Homo sapiens: one gene and its partner. The protein of the gene in region 1 purifies or fractionates together with the protein of each later gene. This does not show direct contact. Each region holds a gene or a part of one and is shown on either strand. Other genes may lie near its edges.

Region 1 (3,500 bases):
AGTGAGGTAGCTGAGAACACTGGGTGTGGCCCGATCCCCTAGATTTGAAAATCTGCTCTGCCATTTTATTAGTTGGTGACCTGCCTTAGAGGATTGTCTCAGGAGTAAATGACACACTGAATGCAAAACAAGGAGTTGGGCACAGAGAAAGTGCTGAACAACCTTGTGTCATCTCACTTGCCCTAGCTATCCTCTACTCTAGTTCAGCCTTCTCTCTCTTTTTTTTTTTTTTTTTTTTTTTTTTTTGAGATAGAGTCTCACTCTGTTGCCCAGGCTGGAGTGCAGTGGCATGATCTCAGCTCACTGCCACCTCCGCCTTCCAGGTTCAAGTGATTCTCGTGCCTCAGCCTCCCAAGTAGCTGCGATTACAGGTGTGTGCCACCACACCTGGCTAATTTTTGTATTTTTTAGTAGAGATGGAGTTTTGCCGTGTTGGCCAGGCTGGTCTGGAACTCCTGACCTCAAGTGATCTGCCTGCCTTGGCCTCCCAAAGTGCTGGGATTACAGGCATGAGCCACTGCACCCAGCCCAGCCTCCTCTTTACAGATGGTGATATGAGATTCAGGGAATCTCATGAATGTGACATGAACCACACAGTGTTTCTAGCTGTGTGAACTTGAGCAAGTTGCTTAACCTCTCTGGGCTTTGGTTCTTTTATTTGTTAATTAGGGATAACAAGATCTATCTCCATGGGTTGTTTTGACAATTTTTTTTTTTTTGAGACAAGGTCTTGCTCTGTTGCCCAGGCTGTGGTACAGTGGCATGATCTCGGCTCACTGCAGCCTCCACCTCCTGGGCTCAAGTGATCATTCCACCTCAGCCTCCCAAGTAGCTGGGACCATAGGCACGAGCCACCATCCCCATGTCCGACTAATTTTTGTATTTTTCTGTAGAGCCTGGGTTTCTCCCTGTTGCCCAGGCTGGTCTCAAACTCCCAAGTTCAAGTGATCCTCCTGCTTTGGTTTCCAAAAGTGCTAGGATTATACGTGTTAGCCACCACACCTGGGTAATTTTTTTTTTTTTTTGTAGAGATGGGGGTCTCCTTACGTTGCCCAGACCCCTATTGGCTGATTCTTGCCCAGAAACCAGCTCTCTGGTGCCCACCCCTATCTTTTCAGGACATCACATCTCTTATCTTCAGTAGCAGAGTTGATAGGTTTCCTTTTCAATAAACCTATGTGACTTGTCATCCTTCTGATAGCTGTTATAGAAGGGAATGTAAATAAGTTCAAATCAATGTGTGGATGACAGATTTTTGTTTTGTTTTGTTTGAGACAGAGTCTCTGTCACTCAGGCTAGAGTGCAGTGGCGCAATCTCAGCTCACTGAAGCCTTGACTTTCCGAGTTGAGGTGGTTCTCCCTCATGTTGTCCAGGCTGGTCTTGAACCCCTGGGCTCAAGCAATCCTCCCAAGGTGCTAGGATTACAGGTGTGAGCCACTGCACATGGCTGAATGACAGATGGGTTCTAGGAAAGGAAATACTCTTTGGGTTACTTCCCAATAAGTGAGAAGACAGCGCTGTGGTGCCACGTGGGAGGAGGAGCCAGCATCACAGGCTGGCTGGGATTAAGCTGTTCTCTCCCTGGTCTTTCTGAAGGAGAGTGTGCCTGTGTCCAGTTACCAGCAGGCAGGAATTCCCGTGGACTTGAAAAGGAAGATTGCACGGCTGGGGATCAACATGCTCCTGAAGATGGTGAGCTCATGGCTGGAGCGGGCTCAGGCCCAGCATGTGGTCAGCTTGCAGATGGGGAGTGGGCTGGGACTCTGGCTATCTGGGTGGGAAGGAGAGCGAAGCAGCAAGCCGCCAGGTTGAGAAAGTCTGGTCTAGAAAGAGTGGAGGCTACCATAAATGGCCATGGTGTCTGTGAAGCTCTTTTATTTTTTTTTTTTTGAGATGGAGTCTTGCTCTGTCGCCCAGGCTGGAGTGCGGTGGCGTGATCTCGGCTCACTGCAAGCTCTGCCTCCTGGGTTCACGCCATTCTCCTGCCTCAGCCTCCCAAGTAGCTGGGACTACAGGCGCCCGCCACCACGCCTGGCTAATTTTTTGTATTTTTTTAAGTAGAGATGGGGTTTCATCATGTTAGCCAGGATGGTGTCGATCTCCTGACCTCATGATCCACCCGCCTTGGCCTCCCAAAGTGCTGGGATTACAGGTGTGAACCACCACACCCGGCCTTTTTTTTCCTTTTTTAAGATAGGGTCTCACTCTGTTGCCGAGGTTGGAGTGCAGTGGCAAAATCTCCATGAACTACAGCCTCAACCTCTTGGGCTCAAGTGATCCTGCCTCCTCACTCCTCAGCCTCCTGAGTAGCTGGGACTACAAACATGAGCCACCAAGCCTGGCTAATTTAAAAAATTGTTTTGTAGGGACTTACTATGTTGTCCAGGGCAGTCTTGAACTCCTGGGATCAAGCGATCCTCCCACCTTGGCCTCCCAAAGTGTTGGGATTACAGGCATGAACCACCATGCCCGGCCTCTTAAGTGCTTTGTCAGTGGCTCATGCTCTGTGTGCTGTGAGAAGAAGGGTGACCATGACCCAGTTCTGCCAGCATTGCCTGTAGTTTAGCAAACAGCTGAGACAATATCTTATTTTAAATGCTGCTTTGCTCATTTGTTCAGCAAATGTTTATTGAGCACCTGCTAGGTGCCAGGCACTGAATTAAGGGCTGGGGTTACAGCAGTGAGCAAAACAGACACAATTACAATGCTCGTGACATACTATTCCTTGGGAAGATAGGTGACGACTAAGTAAATGATTTATAGGGATAGGTACGGGGTACCAAAAGGTCATTTCGGAGGAGACTGTGCTAACCCAGGGATTCACTCAGGAAGTGGCTCCATCTCAGCTGCAGTGTGAAGGTCTAGGTGTCACTACATAAGGACAGGTGGCAGGGAGTTGTCTAGAGAGAATAGCCTTTGCTGAGGCCTGGGGTGAGCTACTGCATGGTGCTCTTGGAGAGACGAAAGCACTTAGTATGGCTTGGAAGAGAGTTTGAAGGAGGGGGCAGTGATTGCTGAGGCTGAGGAGGTGAGAGGAGGCTGAGGAGGTGAGAGGGGCCTGACCACAAAGGGTCTAGTAAATCTGTGAAAGAGTTTGGACTTTAATCCAAGGGCAGATAAGTTCATTTTGAAGATTTTTGCCCTTAACTTTAAAAAATTGAATTCCAATAATATTTAAATATAAAGTGCTCAGATCTTAAATGATGCTTAGTGAATTTTTAAAAAGCATCCCAGTGCCCAGATTAAAACATAGGAGAGTTTTGGCTGGGTGCAGTGGCTCACACCTATAATCCCAGCACTTCAGGAGGCTGAGGCGGGGAGATTGCTTGAGCCCAGGGGTTTGAGACCAGCCTGAGCAAGATGCCAAAACCCTGTCACTACAAAAAAAAAAAAAAAAAAATACAAAAATTGGCCACGTTTGGTGGCAGCATGCCTTTAGTCCCAGCTACCTGGGAGGCTGAGGTGGGATCACCTGAGCCCAGGAGATGGAGGTTGTAGT
Region 2 (3,500 bases), on another chromosome or scaffold:
ACCTTGGGCTGGGCTTGGGAGCTCCGGATCTCACCAAGGGACTCCTGGGGGCCTTGATTACTGCAGAGGTCAGCAGGCCCAGAGACCCCAGCCTCCCTGCAGGTCCTGGGGAGGGGTGGGGGCAATGCCTCTCCCGCCTGTTGGTGCCTGTCTGTCACTGCACCACTGCTTCAGGCCTCCCTTATATAAGCCCAGTTCTCTCTCTGGCCTGCAAGGGGTGGGCAGCCCAGAGGCCAGCGCCACTCGTCCCCAATCTCCCTTCTTAGGATCAAGAACCGGCCCAAGGTTGACATTTGGTGCACCAGGCCCCTGAGGGGCTTCAGGGCAAGGCCAGGGACCTCGGGGAAAATCCTCATCCTCTCCCCTCCATTCCAAGAGTAGCCTGGGCCCCTTGCCCTGGAGGAGCCCTGGCCCTGTGAGGGAGGCTGGCAGGCGCTGCCCGCTGTCACTCCATGCCGGTGCCCTTTGCTCCACTTCAGTGGCCACGTGACCAGGCCCCATTCCTGCCCTCTAGGGTTGTTGAGCAGCCACAAAAGGGGTGGTGCCAGCAGCTGGGGCACTCTCCCTAAGTGAGACTGGGACTTTGACCATGCCCACCCCCACCCACTGCCCAGCACAGTCAGGAAGTGGCTTAGCCTCCCAGCTCCCACCCGCTTCATCCCCACCTGCCTCCTGGGAAGGGGCCTCAGGCCCCACTCTGCAGTGGGTCTCCTCCCCCTCCTCTCCCCACCTGCCCCTAGCACTGCCTGTGTGCGGGCCCTCTCTCCCCTAAGAATCATATGAGCATGAAGGTCTATTTTGGGTGCGTTTAGGGAGCAAGGGATTCGGAGCCACATAGGCCTGGATGAGAGAATCTCAGCTCTGTGTGTTAACTTCCTCATCTGTAAAATGGGTCCAGCAGTAGCGCCCACCTCTGGGGTTCTTGTGGAGGTGAAAGTGGGGCAGGAGGGAAGCACAGGGTGGACCTGGCTATTGGTACCCAGTAAATGCCACCATCACCATCAGCAGCGGCATCACCGTCAGGGCCCGTGTTGGCCGTTGGCCACGTGGTGTAGACTTGGAGTCTGCAAGAGCTAGGTTTGAATCCCAACCTGCTGCTTACTATGTGGCCTGGGGCATATCACTAACCTCTCAGTGCTGGTCTCGTTGTCTGCAAAAACAGGGAAATACCTTGTGCTCATCAAGGCTGTTGGCAGATGAGAGACCCTGTGTGGGACTCGGCACAAGTGGGTGTTAGTGGTCGCTATGTTCTTCTCCAGGGAGACAGGTGAGGTCTTAGGAGTGCCAGCCTGATTGTCTGCTGGGGTGGCAGGGATGGTGATGGGGGCTGAGAGAAAGGCTGATCTTTTCTGCTGTTGGGGCCCCCAGCCCCATCAGCAGCCACAGCTCCTCCTATCGGGCTCTGTGCAGAGCTCTGGGTAGGGAGGGGTGGGCGGTGAGCTCTGGGCCTGAGACAGCCCCCTTCGTGTGGCAGTGGGGCAGGTCTCCAGGGCACAGGGGCTCCAACATGCTGTGATTCAGAGCCTACAAGCAGTGGGAGAGTATCAGATGCTGCCTGGGGGCTCAGAGGATGCATGCAGCTGTTGACAGTGTTTGAGCCACCAGCCATAATAAGAGCAAGCATTAGAGAGTGCTCACTATGTGCTAGGCACTGTGCTAATCATCACATGGAATTCTCACCACAAAGCAGTCATAAATAGATATAACAATCCCCATTTTCCTAATGAGCAAACTCAGGCCCAGAGAGGTTCCATGACTTACCCAGAGCCACACAGCTCCAAGTGCTTAAAGAGCCAGGTCTGGGTCCAGAGCTGGTTCTTTCACTCTCTTCTCTGTCAGGCAAGAGCGAGAAGAGCAGCAATACTAGGTTTAAGGGGAAGGGCATTCCTAGCAGAGGGCACTGTGTGAACAGAAGCGTGGAGGTGAGAGTCGAGCAGAATCAGCACTCTGGAGTGGCAAGAGCGCTGGAGACTCGGGGGCTTCATCATCCCACTTACTAGCTATGGGGCTGCTTACGCCTCCCTGGGGGAGGCTGTGCGTGGGGCTGATTCCTGCCTGTCTGCCTGTTACAGGTTACAGTGAAGGCCAGAGCACTGTGGACATGGGAATGAGTCCTCGTGTGGAGGGGCCTTTTCTAGAAATACTGTTGGGCCCCTGGGGCCCTTGGCACTGCAGGGCTCTAGGTAGCGCCCCCCCTTCCTCCTGGTTATAAGTGTTTCTGCCAGAGAGAGGCTCTTCCTGCCTTCCCCAAAGGAACAAGCCACAGACTGGACATGTTAGCAGGGAAACAGGTCATGGCTCCCCAGGGCACGGGGCACAGTGGCTCCAGCTTGGTACCATCTGCCACCACAGGTGGACCTGACTCCCTTGCAGAAGGAGGCCTGCTGCTGTCCCTGAGTTCAGGGCTTATTTTTTGGGGGGACAGAGTCTTGCTCTGTCACCCAGGCTGGAGTGCAATAGAGCGATCTCGGCTCACTGCAACCATTGCCTCCCAGGTTCAAGCGATTCTCCTACCTCAGCCTCCCGAGTAGCTGGGATTACAGGCGTGCACCACCATGCCCAGCTAATTTTTGCATGTTTAGTAGAGACAGGTTTTTGCCATGTTGGCCAGGCTGGTCTTGAACTCCTGACCTCAGGTGATTCGCCCACCTCAGCCTCCCAGAGTGCTGGGATTACAGGTGTGAGCCACCACACCTGGCTAAGTTCAGGGATTCTTGATGCTCCTTTTAGAGCATCAAGCTCTTCTCTTAGCCCAGGGAAAACTGGCCTCCCCATCAGGCCTGTAGATGGGAGGAGGTGGCAGGGCATCACCCACTGCTACCTGGCCTTTTGCAGTAGAGTGAGCTTCTCTGGACTCTCCATGGGCCCCAGCCCCACCTGGGGACAGAGCCAGGCACGCCCACCCCACCTTTGGGTCCTTCCCACCTGCCATTTTAGAATCCACTTGCCGAGGCAGGTGCCTGGCCCAGATCACCCCAGCTCAGGGGTCACTCTGGGAGGCCCCGTGCTGTCTCCTCTGCCGGGGGTCACTCCAGGAGGCCCTGTGCTGGCCCTTCTGCCATTGTGCCCACTGGATGCAACAACACCCCGGCGGGGAGAAACATTAGGAGCTGTTTCCACACTGGGGCTCAGAGAAGTTGATGCACCTCCCTGCCTTCCCCCACTGCAGGCGCTAGGTCCAGTCTCCCTGCCCCATCTCAGCCTCAGTCTCCTGATCTGTGAGTCCTCTTAGATGGGATCATCTCCAAGCCCCTTCTGAGAGGACTATTCTAGGATTCCAAAGCAAAGGTGCTAAACGGGGGACCAGCAAATTTGAAGTTTTCTTGCATAACTGACTGGGTTGTCAGGGAGACTCACATACAAATGAAATGGATGGAGAAAAATAGTGAGGCGGCTTGTCGGCAGCTCTGTGTGGGGCCCGCGTAGGAGCAGGACAAGAGCAAGGCCCAGTTGAATGAAGTGGGTGAGGAGGGGCTAGCCACCTGAAGCTGAGGCTGTGT

What was found. The genes of interacting proteins can lie anywhere in the genome.
Region 2: the proteins of ADCK2 (region 1) and PDK2 purify together in Homo sapiens (affinity purification with mass spectrometry; one large-scale study listed by BioGRID and IntAct). This does not show direct contact.

The regions. Positions count from the first base shown.
Region 1 is NC_000007.14:140,679,445-140,682,944, forward strand, and holds part of ADCK2 (uncharacterized aarF domain-containing protein kinase 2), read left to right. Parts: intron 1-1,597; coding exon 1,598-1,693; intron 1,694-3,500. UniProt on the Homo sapiens protein: The function of this protein is not yet clear. It is not known if it has protein kinase activity and what type of substrate it would phosphorylate (Ser, Thr or Tyr).
Region 2 is NC_000017.11:50,101,851-50,105,350, forward strand, and holds part of PDK2 (pyruvate dehydrogenase kinase, isozyme 2 isoform 1 precursor), read left to right. Parts: intron 1-2; exon of another isoform or gene 3-546; intron 547-3,500. UniProt on the Homo sapiens protein: Kinase that plays a key role in the regulation of glucose and fatty acid metabolism and homeostasis via phosphorylation of the pyruvate dehydrogenase subunits PDHA1 and PDHA2.